Linked DNA regions of Homo sapiens: region 1 is linked to region 2. The links come from fine-mapping of genetic effects on gene expression. A gene starts in region 2. The other region holds a variant in brackets. All regions are shown on one strand. Distances are from middle to middle.

Evidence for each region. PIP is the estimated chance that this variant, and not a neighbour inherited with it, causes the effect. A credible set is the group of variants that fine-mapping cannot tell apart.
Region 1: its variant is the best candidate, but not a certain one, in a credible set for the expression of FAF1 in blood mononuclear cells (TOPMed, PIP 0.61).

Annotation. Positions count from the first base shown.
Region 1 is chr1:50,646,115-50,654,114 of GRCh38, reverse strand. The region is part of intron 8 of FAF1 (Fas associated factor 1); the gene reads left to right. Among named protein-coding and RNA genes, the nearest start is that of FAF1-AS1, 210 kb to the right of the region's middle. The variant G/C (reference allele first, on the strand shown) is at 3,051.
Region 2 is chr1:50,956,682-50,967,655 of GRCh38, reverse strand. It overlaps FAF1 (Fas associated factor 1), which reads left to right and starts at 7,389. Exons shown (of 19, transcript NM_007051.3): 1 at 7,389-7,889. The coding sequence starts at 7,845. It also overlaps a transcript of CDKN2C not described here. RefSeq lists silencers at 7,423-7,582, 7,693-7,742 and an enhancer at 8,053-8,102.

The sequences.
Region 1 (8,000 bases), 310 kb after region 2:
ACAGAAAAGTTTTAAGACAATTTATGTAGATGCTACTTGAATCTAATTACAATGTAAACAGTATGCCTTTGGAACATGCTTTGTGGATTATGAAATTTTAAAAATCAGAAACTTTAATAATCAGAAAATAGCAAAACCTTTATTTTTGGTCAGGCACGGTGACTCACACCTGTAATCCCAGCACTTTGGGAGGCCGAAGCCGGTGGATTACCTGAGGTCAGGAGTTTGTTTATTTATTTATTTTTGACTTGGAATCTTGCTCTATCGCCCAGTCTGGAGTACAATGACACAATCTTGGCTCATTGCAACCTCCACCTCCTGGGTTCAAGCGATTGATTCTCCTGCCTCAGCCTCCCAAGTAGCTGGGATTATAGGCGCCTGCCGCCACACCCGGGTAATTTTTGTATGTTTAATAAGGACGAAGTTTCACCAAGTAGGCCAGGCTGGTCTTGAACTCCTGACCTAAGGTGACCAGCCTGCCTCGGCCTCCCAAAGTGCTGAGATTACAGGCATGAGCCACCGTGCCTGGCCGAGGTCAGGAGTTTGAAACCAGCCTGGCCAACATGGTGAAACCCTGTCTCTACCAAAAATACAAAATTAGCCGGGCGTGGTGGCTTGTGACTTTAATCCCAGCTACTTGGGGGGCTAAAGCAGGAGGATCACTTGAACCTGGGAGGGGGAGGTTGCAGTGAGCCAAGATTGTGCCATTGCACTCCACTGGGCAATAAGAGCAAAACTCCATCTGAAAAACAAAAACAAAAGCCCCTTTATTTTTAATAAACACTTCCAGAAAAAAAAATCTTTAGGTTTAGGTGCTTAAATTTGTTTCTGAAAAACTGATTTTAGCATTGATGTTATAGTATATAATTAGAATTATTGGCTGGTCATCTATGGCTAAGGATAGGGATGTGTTTGTGGTTTTCTTGTGGTTTTTTTTTTGTTGTTTTTCTTGCTTGAGTGAGAAATTTGATAGAAAATGTGCTACCTTTATTTTTACAAAAATAAAAGAATAATGTTCATACATGATGGTCTACTGTTTACCTGAGGAGGCATGAAGAAAACAGAAATGTTCTCAGTATTGTCTAAGAACTTGTTACAAGAAATAGTAATATTAATAGAAGAAGATAATTAAGACCTGAGCATATCATTAAATTCTCTGAGCTTTAATTTTGTCACTAATTTGCAGAACTATTATGAAGATAAGTGATAATATAAATACAGTACCTGGCTCATAGTAGACACTCAGTAAATGAGTCGACATTATAATTAAGATAACTGCAAAAAAAGTTATTGTAATTACAGATTACAATTACAGGCAAGAATTGGCTGGTTTAAAGAAATGAAGTGATGTCTGAGACTTGCTTCAGAATAACCTATGTGTGGCAGAGTGAGTGAGGATAGAGCTAATTTAGATTAGGCATCTATCAATCATTGTTGAATCTAGGTGATACATATATTGGGTTTATTATACTGTTCTCTCAACTTTTGTATATATTTGAAAATTTTCATAATAAAAAGTTTAAAGCAAAAATAGTTGTCTTGTTTAAGAGCAGGGACATAAGATAATAGAGAAACTCTGGAAATGTGGGGCTTCACAGGGTTGGAAAAGCCAACTGCTTTTGCACCCCACCCTTGTAGAAACCAGACTGAAATTGGCTTATCAGGTACAAGTTCCAAGAATGATAGGCAAAGTCGATGAAATATGATCAATTCTTCTGCCTGTAAAATAGTGCCTTATACATTTTAGGTGCTAATTCATTGAATTGAGTTGGCATGGTCTTTTATGAGACCCATGTTTTAATGGTTTTTATAACATTTAATTTTTTGCCAAAGAGTTGTCATGCAGTCTAATTACTATAGGAAAATATGGAAAGCAGCTAAAACTGTTTGTTTCCAAGACTGTAATACTACTTGGTGCTCTTAAGTCACAGCAAACACAAGAGGGAATCCCTATTAAGAGGCTTGATTCTTTTAGCCTCATTATTGCCATTTGCACCTTGTCCCAGAACCTGTGAAGTGGTGCCTGCCCACACCTCCCCAGAGCAAATGTTGCGGCATTGGCAGGGTGTTGCCTTGAGCTTGCATGATTTGATACAACAAAGATGTTTAGGGCCAGGCTGCTTTTAACTGATGCCACAGCAGATTCACTAGCTCCAGTGCTTGAATTTAGCCAAAAATGGCTTATAACTAGTATTCTGAGGAGATCCTGGCCAAATAATATGTCGTAAAACCTTTTTCATTAGGAGTATAAAAACTCATAAAACTGGTACTTGTAGTCTATATTTGTTGCAGGCGGTGGTGTTTTTATACTTACTGAAATCATTCAAGTGGAGGCATCTGCTACAAAACAAAATAGTCCTCACAGCTTAGGGCATGAATTGGGTACAGCTGAGAAATGTCAGCTGTGTAAACAGCCTGAAATGTGTTACCAACAAAAATATAATTAATTTCTTTCCAAGACAGTGTGCCATAACTTAATACTTAGAATGGTTTAACTTTCAGAGAAAGCACCTGAACATTTGCTTCCTAGTGCCAGAGTAGAGGATTGGTTATAAAGGTCATTAAAAGTGAGGTCATTTTGTACTTTTATTGCTCAGTTGAAGAAATTTGTGTGGCTTTAAATATACAGTAGCCTTAGATATCATTGGATTCTGTGAATTTATGAAAATACCATAGATCAAGAAATTAATGGATTTGGGGTGATGAAAATGTTCTAAAAATTAGATTGTGGTAAAGGTTGCACATCTCTAAAGTTTTAAAAAATAATTGAACATTTAAAATGAGTGAATTTTATGGCATATAAATTATGCCTCAGTGAAGCTATTTTTTTAAAAAAGAAGTTAATTAACTAGATTAAAATACTTTTTCACTTACATTTTTATCCTGCATGAGAAATACTTTGCAGTAACACAAGAGATGTTTTGTTCAGTATACTTCTCATTAACCTTTGACTCACCCAACAGGAGAAAGAAATAGACCTCTTGTAATCAATTCTTTTATAATCTTGAGTCTCTTATGAACCTAATAGACTTCAGTCTTGGGCATTTTCA[G/C]GTTACTCAGTGAAGTCAACACTCATTTACAACATTGTTGCCCATCTCCCTTCAGAGTTAACGTATTTTCTTTGCTTGTGGTTGTACTCGAATAGGGTGTGGGATACTGTATGAATTGTCAGTAACTCCGTTCCTTTTGTACTCTTTGATCAGGGAAATAGGTATCTAAAGCTTTACCAGTAGGAAAATGTTTTCATGCTGTGACAGTTCAGCTGTGAGAACAAGGAGTTACAAGTAGGCAAAATCTCATTTTACACTTTAACAAGGAAGCTCTTGGTTTCTAGATAGGAGAAATAATTTTAACACTGTGAATTATGTTTAGATACCTTATTACAATGCAGACAATATGAATACATGTAGTTCTTTTTAAATTCCTGGATTTAATAATGCTTATACAAAGAAAACTCTTTCAGTTTTTTGTTTTTATTTTTATTTATATATTTTTTTGAGACAGTCTTGCTCTGTCACCCAGGGTGGAGTGCGGTGGTGAGATCTCAGCTGACTGCAACCTCTGCCTCCCAGGTTCAAGTGATTCTTATGCCTCAGCATCCCAAGTAGCTGGGATTACAGGCGTATACCACCATGCCCAGCTCATTTTTGTATTTTTAGTAGAGACAGGGTTTCGCTGTGTTGGCCAGGCTGGTCTTGAACTTTTGGCCTCGAACTCTTGGCCTCAAGTGATCCTCACCTCGGCCTCCCAAAGTGCTGGGATTACAAGCCTAAGCCACTGTGCCCGGCCAACTCTTTCAGTTTTATTACTTTTTTTTTTTTTTTTTTTTTGAGACAGAGTTTCGCTCTTGTTGCACAGGCTGGAGTGCAATGGTGTGATCCCGGCTCACCGCAGCCTCTGCTTTCCGGATTCAAACGATTCTCCTGCCTCAGCCTCCCGAGTAGCTGGGATTACAGGCATGCACCACCACGCCCGGCTAATTTTGTATTTTTAGTAGACATGGGGTTTCTCCATGTTAGTCAGGCTGGTCTCGAACTCCCGACCTCAGGTGATCCGCCCACCTCGGCCTCCCAGAGTGCTGGGATTACAGGCATGAGCCACCGTGCCCAGCTTAATACTTTATTATTGTGCTTTCTCTCTCTCTCTCTTTGACGGAGTCTTACTCTGTCACCCCCAGGCTAGAATGCAATGGCATGGTCTTGGCTCACTGCAACCTCCACCTCCCAGGTTCAAGCAATTGTCCCTCCTCAGCCTCCCGAGTAGCTAGGACTACAGGCACGTGCCATCATACCCAGCTAATTTTTTTCTTTTTCTTTTTTTTTTTTTTTTGTAGTTTTAGTAGAGACGCGGTTTCATAAGTTGGCCAGGCTGGTCTTGAACTCCTGACCTTGTGATCCACCTGCCTCGGCCTGTCAAAGTGCTGGGATTACAGGCATGAGGCACTGTGCCCAGACTTTTCTTTCTTGATTACTAATGCTCTTCTGTATTTCTGTCATTGGCCACAAAATATTCACTCAGAATTGAGAAACTAGGAATTTTAGAATCAAAGCTCTTTGGGCGTGTGTTAGGATTCAGAAAGCTACTTATTAAATATTTTCACATTGAGAATGTGAAATAATTTACAAGTAAAACCATTACACAGTGGCTTTTATATAAAATAAAAAGAGCCAGGCACAATGGCTCACACCTGTAATCCAGCACTTTGGGAGGCCAAGATGGGTGGATCACCTGAGGTCAGGAGTTCAAGACCATCCTGACCAACATGGAGAAACCCCATCTCTACTGAAAATACAAAATTAGCCAGGTGTGTGGCGCATGCCTGTAATCCCAGCTACTTGTGAGGCTGAGGCAAGAGAATTGCTTGAACCCGGAAGGCGGAGGTTGCAGTGAGAGATTGCGCCATTGCACTCCAGCCTGGGCAACAAGAGCAAAACTCTGTCTAAAAAAAAAAAAATTAAAATGAATAAATACATAAAATGAAAACTGCACACAGCCCTCTCCCCACCCCACTCTTAAATAGAAATGAATCTGAAGGCTGGACACGGTGGCTCACACCTGTAATCCCAGCACTTTGGGAGGCCAAGGCAGACGGATCACGAGGTCAGGAGTTCGAGACCAGCCTGGCCAACGTATTGAAACCTGTCTCTACTAAAGTTACAAACAATTAGGGCCAGGCCCCCTAACTTTTGAGATGGAGTTTCGCTCTTGTTACCCAGGCTGGAGTGCAATGGCACGATCTTGGCTCACCGCAACCTCCGCCTCCTGGGTTCAAGTGATTCTCCTACCTCAGCTTCCCGAGTAGCTGGGATTACAGGCATGCGCCACCACACCCAGCTGATTTTATATTTTTAGTAGAGCTGGGGCTTCTCCATGTTGGTCAGGCTGGTCTTGAACTTCCTACCTCAGGTGATCCGCCTACCTCGGCTTCCCAAAGTGCTGGGATTGCAGGCATGAGCCACCGCGCCCAGCCAAAGTTAATATTTCTAAATAGAAGTACAACATGAATCACATTCAGCCTTGCTTACTTATTTTCAATGGCTCCTTTATGTACAGATTTTTATGCTGGCATTCAAAACCCTTCATTCTTTAGTCTGAAACTTCCCTTCCAGGTTTGTTTTCCCATACAGGCTCTGAGTAAATACTTGATAAATATTTGTTGAATGAATGATTGAATATTACACCATATGTGTCTCAGCTTTAGCTAAATACTTATCTTACTATTTTTCGAATATACTTGGTACTCTCCCACTCTGTCATTTAATCATACTCTTCCTTCCACCTAGAATACCTACAACAATTATCTCCTTCCTTGAAGACCTTTTTGTTTTTTTGTTTTGTTTTGTTTTGTTTTGTTTTGAGACGGAGTTTCACTCTTGTCACCCAGGCTGGAGTGCAATGGCACGATCTCGGCTCACTGCAACCTCTGTCTCCGGGGTTCGAGCAATTCTTCTGCCTCAGCCTCCTCATAGCTGGGATTACAGGCGTGTGCCACTGTGCCTAGCTAATTTTTGTATTATTAGTAGAGACGGGGTTTCACTATGTCGGCCAGGCTGGTCTCTAACTCCTGACCTCAGGTTATCCACCTGCCTCGGCCTCCCAAAGTGCCAGGATTGGAGGCGTGAGCCACCGCGCCCAGCCAAGACCTTTTCTTTGAGAAACCCTGCCTATGCCCTTCTTCCCGTGCTGCCTTCTCCAACCCTCTTAGAAATGCATTTATAGTTCTCTTCTTCTACTTAAGTTTTTTTCACTTTTTTCTTATTTTGTTATTTGTTTCCTTCATTTCTCCCTTCCTTCCTCCTCTCTGGCTTCATCTGGGTCACCACAAGCAACTTAATGTCTATGGATCTCAGTCTCCGTAACTGTCGAACAATAACTCGTAGAGTTATTGTGAAGATTAAAGAGTCAGTAGTTACAAGAATACTTACTGCTAGGTTTATTTTGAAGACTGAAGTAGTATGTACTAGAAAGAATGCCTTAACATGGTTGACTTTTGGCTATTACTGTGTTTTATTTATTGTTTTAATCTATCTATTCATTCACTTGACATTTGTGGAACAACTCTGTTAAAAGAAAACTTCAGACAAATTAAATTTAACAGAGTTTAATTGAACAAGAAAAAAAAATGATTCGCAAATTGGCAGCCTCCAGAATCATAGCAGATTCAGAGAGACTCCAGGAATGCCTCGTGGTTAGAACAAATTTATAGACAAAAAAAGGAAAGTGACGTACAGAAAGAAGCGAGGTACAGAAACAGCTGTATTGGTTACAGGTTGGCATTTGCCTTATTTGGAAACAGTTTGAACATTTAGCAGTGTATCAGTGGTTGAAGAATGGCTGCTGAGATTGGCCAAGACTTAACTATTATTATAGGCATATGCTCATAAGTTAGGTTTTCAGTCTTGTCTACCTATTAAGTTAGGTTAAGCTTCCTCCACCAGGACTCAAATGTAGAAGTCCGGAGCCCTAGGCTGGGCATGGTGGCTCATGCCTATACTCCCAGCGGTTTGGGAGGCTGAGGCAGGTGGATTGCTTGAGACCAGGAGTTTGAGACCAGCCTGGCCAACATGGTGAAACCCTGTCTCTACTAAAAATACAAAAAAAATTAGCTGGGCGTGGTGGCTCACACATGTGATCCCAGACACTCAGGAGGCTGAGACACAAGAATTGCTTGAACCTAGGAGGCGGAGGTTGCAGTGAGCCAAGAGCATGCCACTGTACTCCAGCCTGGGTAACAGAGCGAGACTATGTCTCAAAAGAAAGAAGAAGAAATAGAGTCCTTCTGAGATCATATTTAGTTCGCTTTAACAACTCTTACAGGCCAGTAACTGTGCTGGCCCTTAAAGTTGCAATGATAAGATCTTGCTTCTCAGAGATTGATGAGTTTGGTGGGAGACATATATAAACAATGACAACTGAAGTATATAAATGCAATGGGATCATAGAAGAGGGAACAACCAATTTTGCTAACAGTTAGTGGTAGTGAAAAAATGACTTCTCAGTGAAAGGGACATTTGATTATGTTTTAATTTGTATACTTGTATTCCTCCTTTTGTAAATTATAAGCATTGGAAGTAAGAAATGTCTTCACATTTATATCAAAGAGTGTTTTAGGCATTTATTTAAATTGCATTCATTTATTTAAATTGTTCAGTGCTCCACAAAGTTGACATCTATGGCAATAAACAACTAAAGGATCGATTTGTATGAGTATAGTAATTGGATAAACATTTTGAGAATCATTTATTTCTAATAAAAATTAAGTTATCAAAACTAAGCATTTTATAGCAGCAAGTAGAATAACAGATTTAGGAGTGTGCAGAGCTACATTGTGAGCCGATTTTTACCAATGTGTGTGTGTGTATATATGTATGGGTGGGAGGCAGAGGAAATGGAGGTGGAGGAGAATGCAATTGAGCAAACCAGTCCAAGTTTGTTGAATCCTAACATTACTATTATTTAGATGTTACTTAATGTTTGAGCTTCAGTTTCTTTATCTACAA
Region 2 (10,974 bases):
TAAAAATATCCAACACGGTTGCATGATGCACCCAGTGGTCAAAATGAAACCAAGCAAAAAATGACAAGTCTAATTAGAACCGGCCTTTGGCAAGCGGATCCTCAAGCAGTATCTGTACCCTTCTTGAAGTACACTGGGAGTATTAGCAACAAAACACACCAGAAATATCTGGGTAATCATCCAGCAAGAGATTGGTAGGTAGAGGGAAAGTTGAAACTGGGAAGAATCTGGCAGTGTTTTCTTTAATGTAATTGTTGAGAAAAAAACTAGAGTTCTTTTCTTAGGTAACTAAACTTGAATTGTGAATCAAATGAGAACTACAAAACAAGAAATTAACTCTCTTTTTCTTACATATATGTAGACGTTTCAAATAGAAACATTTAAGATTCCATTTATACCAGTAAGAAATAAATAATAATTTACTTTTGATTATTCTGGGAACTGTGTAATCTTTTCATACAGCCAGAGGGTGTGAGGACATATTAGCACTGTTGGCTGATAAAAGAGAACTGGTATTAGTCCAATTTATGAGGATTGCCTTCTAGCATTTATTATGGTTTCTTGCTTAGAGATAAATTGTAAAGAGGAAGAATCTTAAATTGTATGATTACATAAAGTACGGGTAAACGTACTATAATTTTCATGAAATAAAATGCTTATTGCTGAACAACTAAGGAAAACTTATGATAATTTAAGATGTACACAGAGTTGTATTAAGATTTTTGGAGGCCCTAAGCACTGAAAAGATTTTGATGTTCTACCACCTCTTCCTTATATAGAAATAAAAAGAAAAATAACAGAACCCCAAAATAACAGTAAAAAAGTCCAACAAAGTTCTGATTTTTTTCCCATGATGGCTACTTCAGTGGTTTTGCTGAGATATTAAATTATTTGGCAAAGGTTTTTTTTTTTTTTTTAACATTCTGGTTTTGCTGGTGCCCTGAAGCATATGCTTCATCTGCCTGTTGGGTAAACCAGAATTGGCAGTGCAGAGCTTAGGGTCTTAGTTCAGAAGGCATACATAAGTATTACACAGTAACTCCAATGAAAATCTAGTATTTATTGAGGGCTAGTTCACTACAGCAGATTCAAGGGTATCTCTACCCTCAATAAGCTTATATTCTAACATGGCTTACAAGAAAAATTCATAGTTAAGTTTCTACTATATTGAGAGTGGTGCTTTCCTTTTTAACATCAAAATGATAAGTACATCAAATACTGAAATATAGCCTTTATAGTTAGATATTAAATATTAACAGTCATGGAAACCTTTTGCTCCAGCAGTTCATAATCATTTAAGGAGACATAGAAGTGGCCGGGCGCAGTGGCTCACGCCTATAATCCCAGCATTTTGGGAGGCTGAGGTGGGCAGATCACCTGAGGTCAGGAGTTCGAGACCAGCCTGGCCAACATGGTTAAACCCCAACTCCACTAAAAATACAAAAAAAAATTAGCTGGGCGTGGTGGCTGGCGCCTGTAATCCCAGCTGCTCAGGAGGCTGAGGCAGGAGGATTGCTTGAACCTGGGAGGCAGTGGCGGCCCAGCAGTCTCAAAAAAAAAAAAAAAAAGAGACATAGAATAGAAATGTGATTCAGTCAAATTATTCTGTGCTTTTCCCTCATTGACATAGAATAGAAATGTGATTCAGTCAAATTATTCTGTGCTTTTCCCTCATTGACTCAAGTAGGTACAGTTTCTGAATGATTAACTTTTGGAAATGTGTATGTGGTATTTACCATTTATTTAACTGGTCTCAAAGTTTTCCTTTTTGTTGTATTTATAGATCAACAGAGGTGGAAAACAGACTGGGCACCCCCAGGCAGCCTTTTATGTGACTTTATAATTGTAGCTTCAGCATTTTATTTCTGAGATTCAGTGGTTTTTTTCATATAGGTACTTATTTATGAAAATTTTTTATTATTTTTATTTTATTTTATTTTTGAGACAGGTTCTCACTCTGTTGCCCAGGCTAGAGTGCAGTGGCTTGGTCATGATCATGGCTCACTGAAGCCTTGACTTCCCAGGTCCAAGTGACCCTCCTACCTCAGCCTCTGGAGTCGCTGGGACCACAGGCATGCTCCACCATGCCTGGATAATTTTTCTAATTTTGTGGAGATGGGGTCTTACTATATTGGCCAGGCTGAAAGTTCTTTTTTTTTTGAGACAGAGTCTCTCTCTGTCATCAGGCTGGAGTGCAGTGGCGCGATCCCGGCTCACTGCAACCTCCACCTCCAAATTCAAGCCATTCTCCTGCCTCAGCCTCCTGAGTAGCTGGGATTACAGGCGCCCACTACCACACCCAGCTAATTTTTGTATTTTTAGTAGAGATGGGGTTTCACCACGTTGGCCAGGATGGTCTCCATCTCCTGACCTCATGATCTGCCCGACTCAGCCTCCCACAGTGCTAGGATTACAGGTGTGAGCCACCGCACCCGGCCTGAAAGTTCTTCGTTAAAGTAAGAAGGAAAAAAAGCCCAGTAAGCAACCCAAAAGCTGAAAAATAATAGCAACAATTAATATTTGTATAGTGTTTCATGGTTATAAAATATGATGCATATCTATCTATCTATCTATCTATCTATCTATCTATCTATCTATATTTTTGAGACTGAATCTCGCTTTGTCGCCCAGGCAGAGTGCAGTGGCGCGATCTCAGCTCACTCCAATCTCTGCCTCCTAGGTTCAAGCAATTCTTCTGCCTCAGCCCCCGAGTACCTGGGATTACAGGTGCGCACCACCACGCCCGGCTAATTTTTGTATCTTTAGTAGAGACAGGGTTTCACCATGTTGGTCAGGCTGGTCTCGAACTCCTGACCTCATGATCCGCCCACCTTGGCCTCCCAAAGTGCTGGGATTACAGGTGTGAGCCACCACACACAGCCAATGCATATATTAATCTTTACAACAATTCTGTGAAGTGACTGTGATAATAATCCCCGTATTTCAGGTGAGGGAATTGAGGCTGGCAGAAATTGTGATTTAAAGTCAGTGAATACTAGACATAGGATTTGAATTCAGTTCTTGGGGCTCCAAACCTTATACTTTTTCCATTAGTCCAGGGTCCGCCACTAGTATCCTAAACAACACTAAATCACTAGATGAAATACATATGTGCAGTAGCATTAGTTTTCTCATGAATTACATTATGAGCAAGAAGTATTATTTAAGAAATTGGTTATCTTAACCAAAGAATCAAGGTTATCACTACCAGTAATAACTCAAGTTGATAACACATGGCCTTGATATGATGTAACAAGGACATATCACCTCTGCGGTGATACACATCTCAGTGTAATTCTGAGAATACATTAGGTAATCCCAGATTGAGGGAGATTTTATAAAGTTCCTGACTCTTCAGAAGTGTCCACTGAGAAACTGTCACAGATTGGAAGAGGCTACTGAGACATGACAACTAAATGTAATGTGGTATTATTGGACCATGGAACAAGAAAAGGACATTAGTGTAAAAATCCAAATAGAGCCTCCAGAATTTAACTAGTAGTATTTAGCAGTGTTAATTTCCTAGTTTTGATAGATGTACCATGTTAAATAAGATGGTAACATTAGAGAAAAATGGGCTAAAAGCATATAGGAACATTCTGTACTGTCTTTGGAAGTATTCTAAAATAATTTCAAATAAAAATTTAGTAAAATATAAATAATATTTATTATTTATATTGGAAATAAAGATGATATAAAAGTTTCTTTTAAAAGAACATGGAGATTCTAGAAAAAGATCTGTATTTAACTTAGGCTGAGCTCCATGAACTACTGTGGGCCAACTATGAGAATAGATAAATTAAAATTACTTTTCTTTGCTCGTGCATGGACCAAATTTCTTTACATTTCCTTCTTTTGGTTTATGACACTTAACTGAAATTGTTTCTCTTAAGGATGGAATTCTGGAGAAATGAAAAATGATTTTTTTTCTCCTAATTCAGTATTTATTTTTCTTCCCTTCTCTTATCTGTAGTAGATAACCACTCTGGATGCTAGGTATCCAACCATGAAGAGTTAGGCCATAGGGAAGAAACAGTGTCTTTGGGAATGGTATAAACTAAGCAGCATGGAAGGGAAATTGTACAGAGGCAACATGGTAAGTGGAAGGAGCACTAATTTGACCTAGTCTTGAATCCTAGGTCTGTCACTCTGTAGCATGACTTTGAGCAAATTCTTAACTTGCCAGAGCAGCTTTATATTCTGTAAAGTAGTAGTTGTAAATATTAAATGAGATAAAGTTTGTAATGTATCTGTACATAGTAGACTCCCAATAAAAATTAATAAATTCAAAAGCATTTGCCATCTGTTATGTTCACAAGACTTTGCTATGTTTGCACTATGGTGAATATAAAAACACATGGCATAAAGCGGTTTATAATCTCAAGAAACTTTCAACCTTTGGGGGGAGATTAAACATACATATATGAAAACAATTAGAGAAAAAAATTACAAAATTTACTGGAGCACTAAGTTGTGTTGTAAAGATAGTAAAAGCAGTAATTAGAAAGGAGAAAGATCCTTACTGGCTTAAATTTTATGAAAGGGGTGGTCCTGAGAAAAGCATTTAGGAATTGGTATACAGAGTAATAACTAATATGTTTGGAGAGTTTTAAGGTTTATGAGGAATTTTCACAAGCATTTGATCATTCAACATTCAAAATCACAAGCTTTTTAGCCCAATTTTAGAGATAAAGAAATAGAACCAGAGAGCCTTTGTTAAAGAGCAGAGTTAGAACTCAAACCACAATTATTGACTATTAAATTTATGTTAGTGTGATACCAATATTTTATATTTTCCATGCATTTTCATAATTGTTTTTTCATTTATCAGAGGAAATAGTCCTGTGAGTAGCTGAAGTCAGAGAGATTAAATGACTCATCCAAGTTCCCTCAGCTAATTATTTGGAAAAGCAGTACTAATATATGCCTGAATGTCTAGTGTGTTCATCCCATTGTTCTACATACCACATTGTTTTAATTTCCAGATGGAGAGAAAGGAAAGAAAAAGGGAGCAACATGGGATTTGAATGGGTTCTGAGGTACACACGCATCATTACAGAGAAAAACTCTCAACTTTTTAGGACTGCATTAATCCTTGGCCATATAACTAGAAACAATTATTCACCTGCCTTATACTGAGGGTGGCCTATATGAATGGGGCAACTGAATTGCCACATTTATATTATTGGTGCTGTGTTTTGCCTCATGATTCACATTTGTGCTGACTTTTGGAATTACTTTCTTTTTAAAAAAATATTTATTTATTTATTTTGAAACAGTTTTACTCTGTCACCCAGGCTGGGGTGCAGTAGTGTGATCTTGGTTCACACTGCAACCTCCACCTCCCAGGTTCAGGTGATTCTCCTCCCTCAGCCTCCCTAGTAGCTGGGACTACAGGCATATGCCACCATGCCCAGCTAATTTTTGTATTATTTTTAGCAGAGATGGGATTTCACTATGTTGGCCAGGCTGGTCTTGAACTCCTGACCTCAAGTGATCTGCCTGCCTCGGCCTCCCAAAGTGTTGGGATTATAGGCATAAGCCACTGCCCTGGCCATGGAATTATTTTCTTACGGCTGAAAATTAAGCAAGACATTTTGATTCATGTGACTGTGGAGGGTTCTATTATCTAGCTAATTCTGGTCTAAACACAGATTAGTACTTAAGAACTGTAGGCCAGCCTATTTTCATTTAAGGAAACACACAGAATAAACTCAGATCATAATACAGTGCACTTCTTTATATTCAGTGAAACTGAACAATTAGGTCATATTTCTGATTTCTCATGAATATATTCCCAGTTTATGGAGCCTAGGCCTTGCTGGGTGTGGTGGTATGGCTCACACCTGTAATCCCCACTCTCAGGAGGCTGAGGTGGGAGGATGGCTTGAGCACAGGAGTTGGAAGCCAGCCTGGGCAACATAGTGAGGCCCTGTCTCTAAAAAAGTAAATAAATGATACAAGTTTAAAAAGTTCTTAAGGGAAGCCTAGGCCTTCATGCTACATGATGATTTCACTAGTTATTTTAGCTCTACAGGATAAAATCAGCAATCTTACTTCACATTTTCAAGCTTTTACATACTTTCCAAAGCAAGTAAATGCCCCATGACAATCCAGAAGCTGATATTTTCCCAAGTCAAGGATGAACAACTTCCACTGTCACACTTTCTCTAACCTGGACGACAATTACAAACTGTCACACTTCATTGTACATAGTCTTTGGCTGTTTTAGTTACAGAGGTTGTCAATTTCTGACCATGGGTTGAAACTTTCAATATTTGGTGAATATTCCAAAATAATTTCTTATGAAAATGAATAGGCCGGGTGCAGTGGCTCACGCCTGTAATCCCAACACTTTGGGAGGCCGAGGAGGGCGGATCACGAGGACAGGAGTTCGAGATCAGCTTGCCCAACATAGTGAAACCCCGTCTCTACTAAAAATACAAAAAAAACTTAGCCGGGCTTGGTGGCGGGAGCCTGTAATCCCAGCTACTATGGAGGCTGAGGCAGGAGAATCGCTTGAACCCAGAAAGCGGAGGTCGCAGCGAGCCGAGATCGCGCCACTGCACTCCAGCCCGGGCCACAGTGCGAGACTCCGTCTCAAAATAATAAATAAATAAATAAATAAATAAATAAATAAAAATAGACTGACTATATTCAAAGCTGGATTCAAGTTTTATCCCATTTGTAAGATGTCTCAGCTTAAAAAAACAAATATAACTGCAGCAGTAGAAAGGTTTTCCCTTTTTTCCCCCTTTGGAGCAACCCTATTAACTCGAGGTTGTTATTTCTCATAACTACCTTATCAATTAAAAAAAATGCTCCTCCTCTTCTCTGGAACGAGATTTTTACCTTTCTCAGCTTCCTCGTCTCTCCCATGTCTACCATGGCAGTCTGGTTACTTCTGTGTTACGGAGTCTGAGGATGCAGACGTCAGGGAGCTTGGGACTGGGTGTGACAGTGTGGATTCGGTTTTGACAGGTTGAGCGTGAGAGACTATATGAAGCTGTATTTTGCTGAAACATTGTAGAGAAAAACATATATTTCTGAAATGCTGTTTGTTAGACGAGTTGTAACAGTGTGTTTAGTTGGTTTGTGAGGGTGGTGTGTATTTGTGTGACTAACCACGTGAGGTGCACAATCTGGTCCCCGCCTCAGCTAGGGGGAGGCGCTATCCTGAGGCCTTTGCTTAAATCCAAACTGGAATAACCTGTTGCGAGACTTGAAGCTTCCGCAGCTGCAGGTTGCAGTCTCTGCCGCCAGCGCAGAGATCCTGGCCGGGTAGTCGCGCGCTCAGCGCTTGACAGGAGGGTGGTCACGTGGAGCCGCAAAGCGGCGCTTTGCGACCTCGATGACAGGCAAAATGTGCGACAGCCGTGGCGCTGGCCAACCAGGGGCGGAGGCGGCGGCCAGGGAGGAAGCGGAGGAGGCGGAGGCGGCCGCGGCGTTCGCCCGCCCGCTCGCTCGCTCGGTTTCCCCGCCCCCGCCGGGCTTAACGCCGCTGAAGGTATCCGGGTGCGCGCTGTCGCAACCTGCCCTCATCCTGGCCCGCGACTGTAAGACCGGACCCACATCCAGACCAATCTTCCTGTCCGGGCTGCTGCGACGCGGGCTCCGCAGGTTGCAGGCGGGCGGCCGGGGCGCCTGAAGGTTACCGAGTGCATGAGCGCCTAGCGCTTCCCGCGCTGCCCCGCCCGCTGGCCCGCCGACCCGCCCGCCGGCTCGCCCGCCAGCCCCTCGGCGCCCGGCGGCGGCGGCGGCGGTGGCGGCGACGGTCGCAGGAGGTGCCGTCTGCCTCCCAGGTGCGCGCTTCGCTCCCGGAGCCGCGGAACTCGGCGGCCGCCATGGCGTCCAACATGGACCGGGAGATGATCCTGGCGGATTTTCAGGTGAAGTATCTGGCCCTCTTCCCCTCCCACTTCCAACCTCGTGGGTTTCCGGTGCCACAAGGGAGTCTTCTTCCCAGCGTTTGAACGCTGCAGTGGTGTGTCATTTAGGCTTTTATACGGTGCGTGGCGTGTGTGTGTGTGTGTGGCGAGCTATGGAGAAGCGTATAATTTATATGCTATCATGAGTGTGTAGAATGTGTTAAGTACGGGTTGAATGGGATTGGAGGTATTAATGACTTGGGTTACAATGTGTGTGGAATGTGTAGTGTTTCCTGTATTATATGGGGGGACGTGTAGAGTTTTTGTTTTAATTGGTGTTGGACCATTAAGTATGGGATGTTTTGGGTGGTTCTGTGGGGAGAGATGTATGGAGTGTGAGCGTGGAGCGTGTGGTGTTATGGGCGTGGTGTATTTATATTGTATTAAGGGAAGAGTAAAAAAGCAGAATGATGAGATGGCGAGGGCAATGACAATGGGGTACTGAGGTCCTTTTCAAAGAGGAGTAAACATTTGAGACTTTGCCTAATTGGAATCTTTGGAGGGTAAGAAGATAACAAGGAGACAGATAAGACTATATATTCCAGAGTATCTCTGCAATGAATTCACAAGCTTAATAAATTACCTATTCATATTTGCGGATTCCCCTCCCCTACAGACTTGAATTGCTTGGTTGGTGTCCTTTCTCCAGGAATACTTTAAAGGATAAGTAAAGGCTGTTCTCTTAATAAACCCAGTCGTAGTGCCACTGACATGTAAGTATCTTAGGAAGGCCCTTTGAAAGTAGAACTGTATGCATTGTGAAAGACTTGGAGCTAGAACTAATATCCTGTGAGTGCTACCTTTGCCTTTTGATGTTTGGTGAAGGAATTATTTTAGTGAGATATTTTTGGCCATTTTGGCATCAACTTAGAAGCTACTGTCAAGTATAGGCAGACTTTTCCCTCTTTTTTAATACTCACATTGCACAGGTTCTAACACTAGCTTAGTAGGCAGTATTTTTCCTTGCTGAAATTTTGTTGGGCTTTTCTCTCTCTCTGTTCTATTAAGTTCCTTATTTTTTTTAAAATTAATTAATTTTTTTTTTTTTTTGAGACGGAGTCTCGCTCTGTCGCCCAGGCTGGAGTGCAGTGGCGCGATCTCGGCTCATTGCAAGCTCCGCCTCCCAGGTTCACGCCATTCTCCTGCCTCAGCCTCCCGAGTAGCTGGGACTACAGGCGCCGGCCACCACGCCTGGCTAATATTTTTGTATTTTTAGTAGAGACAGGGTTTCGCCGTGTTAGTCAGGATGGTCTTGATCTCCTGACCTCGTGATCCACCCTCCTCGGCCTCCCAAAGTGCTGGGATTACAGGCGTGAGCCACACTGCTCCCGGCCCTTATTTTTACAAATTAACGTTCAGATAACCATTTTCAGAGTTTGCTGTTTTGGTTACCCAGTGAAATCTGATATACAGGTATTAGGAATATGCATATATCTACAGTTTGATTAAACCATAACCTCCAAACTAATAAAGGAGTGTCCTTATAATAAAAGTTGACCATAAGATTTTGATGTTTTGTAGGTTTAGGATTGGCCTGAGGCTTTTTGCCTGCCTACATTTTAAAAAATTTTTCAATTAATTAATTAATTAAATTTTTTAGAGATGGGCCTTGCCATGTTGCCCAGGCTGGTCTTGAACTCCTGGGCTCAAGTGATCTACCCACCTCAGGCTCCGAAAGTGTTGGGAATACAGGTGTAAGCTCCAACACCCAGCCCTGCCTAAGTTTTTCATCATCGTCTTTTTGTTTTGTTTTTGTTCTCCAGTTCCATTTTTTATCTAATGTGGAATGCACTGTTTGAAAAAGGACTCTATATTTCAAGGTGTAGTTTTACCGTGTTACAAAATTGTCTTCTGATTTCCCTCATTAAAAACTTTATAAAGTAATTATAACTTTGTTTTAATTTTACCTTTTTATCTCTAATAACTTGCATCTGCTTTCTATTTTTTGTGTGTGACAATTATTATGCTTAACTGTTAACCTTATATTGGCTAAAGGACAGGAAATTTAGGCTTCTTGTACTCAGGCAAAGCAAGATTTTCCAGGGATTTTGGTTTGGAAATGAAAATGAAAATTTCGGCCGGGCATGGTGGCTCAGGCCTGTAATCCCAGTACTTTGGGAGGCTGAGGGGGCGGATCACGAGGTCAGGAGATCAAGACCATCCTGGTGAACATGGCGAAACCCGGTCTCTACTAAAAAAATACAAAAAATTAGCCGGTCGAGGTGGCGGGCGCCTGTAGTCCCAGCTACTCGGGAGGCTGAGGCAGGAGAATGGCGTGAACCTGGGAGGCGGAGCTTGCAGCGAGCTGAGATTGCGCCACTGTACTCTAGCCTGGGCGACAGAGCGAGACTCTGTCTCAAAAAAAAAAAAAAAAAAAAAAGAAAATGAAAATTTCGATCCCATTAATAAGATGGGAATAAGTTTTTCTCTTCAGACCAATGGTAATGCTATACACAATTGTTTAAAAATGGGAAAAATAGAATGGCATCTGCAGTGAACAATTGTTTGCCTAATAATGTTAATTTTATATTGTCAAATAGGTAAAAGAATGTTATTGATAGAAGAAAAAATTATTTGGAAAACTACACACCTTAAACACATTAGCCATTTGTGTGTTTAGGAACCTGGAGTTCTCTTACAAATGATCGTCTTAGTAAAAAGTGATGATTCTTCCTGTTTTTTATATTATCTCAATTTTTATAGGATTGACTTAAAAGTAAGCATTTATTCAGTTATAAGAAAACCAGGTAATTTATTTATTTACTTATTTATTTTTTCTGAGATGGAGTTTCACTCTTGTTGCCCAGGCTGGAGTGCAATGGCATGATCTCGCCTCACTGCAACCTCCGCCTCTCGGGTTCAAGTGATTCTCCTGCCTCAGCCTACTGAGTAGCTGGGATTACAGGCATGTACCACCATGCCCAGCTAATTTTGTATTTTTAGTAGAGATGGGGTTTCTCCATGTTGGTTAGGCTGGTCTCGAACCCCCGACCTCAGGTGATCCACCTGCCTTGGCCTCCCAAAGTGCTGGGATTACAGGCATGAG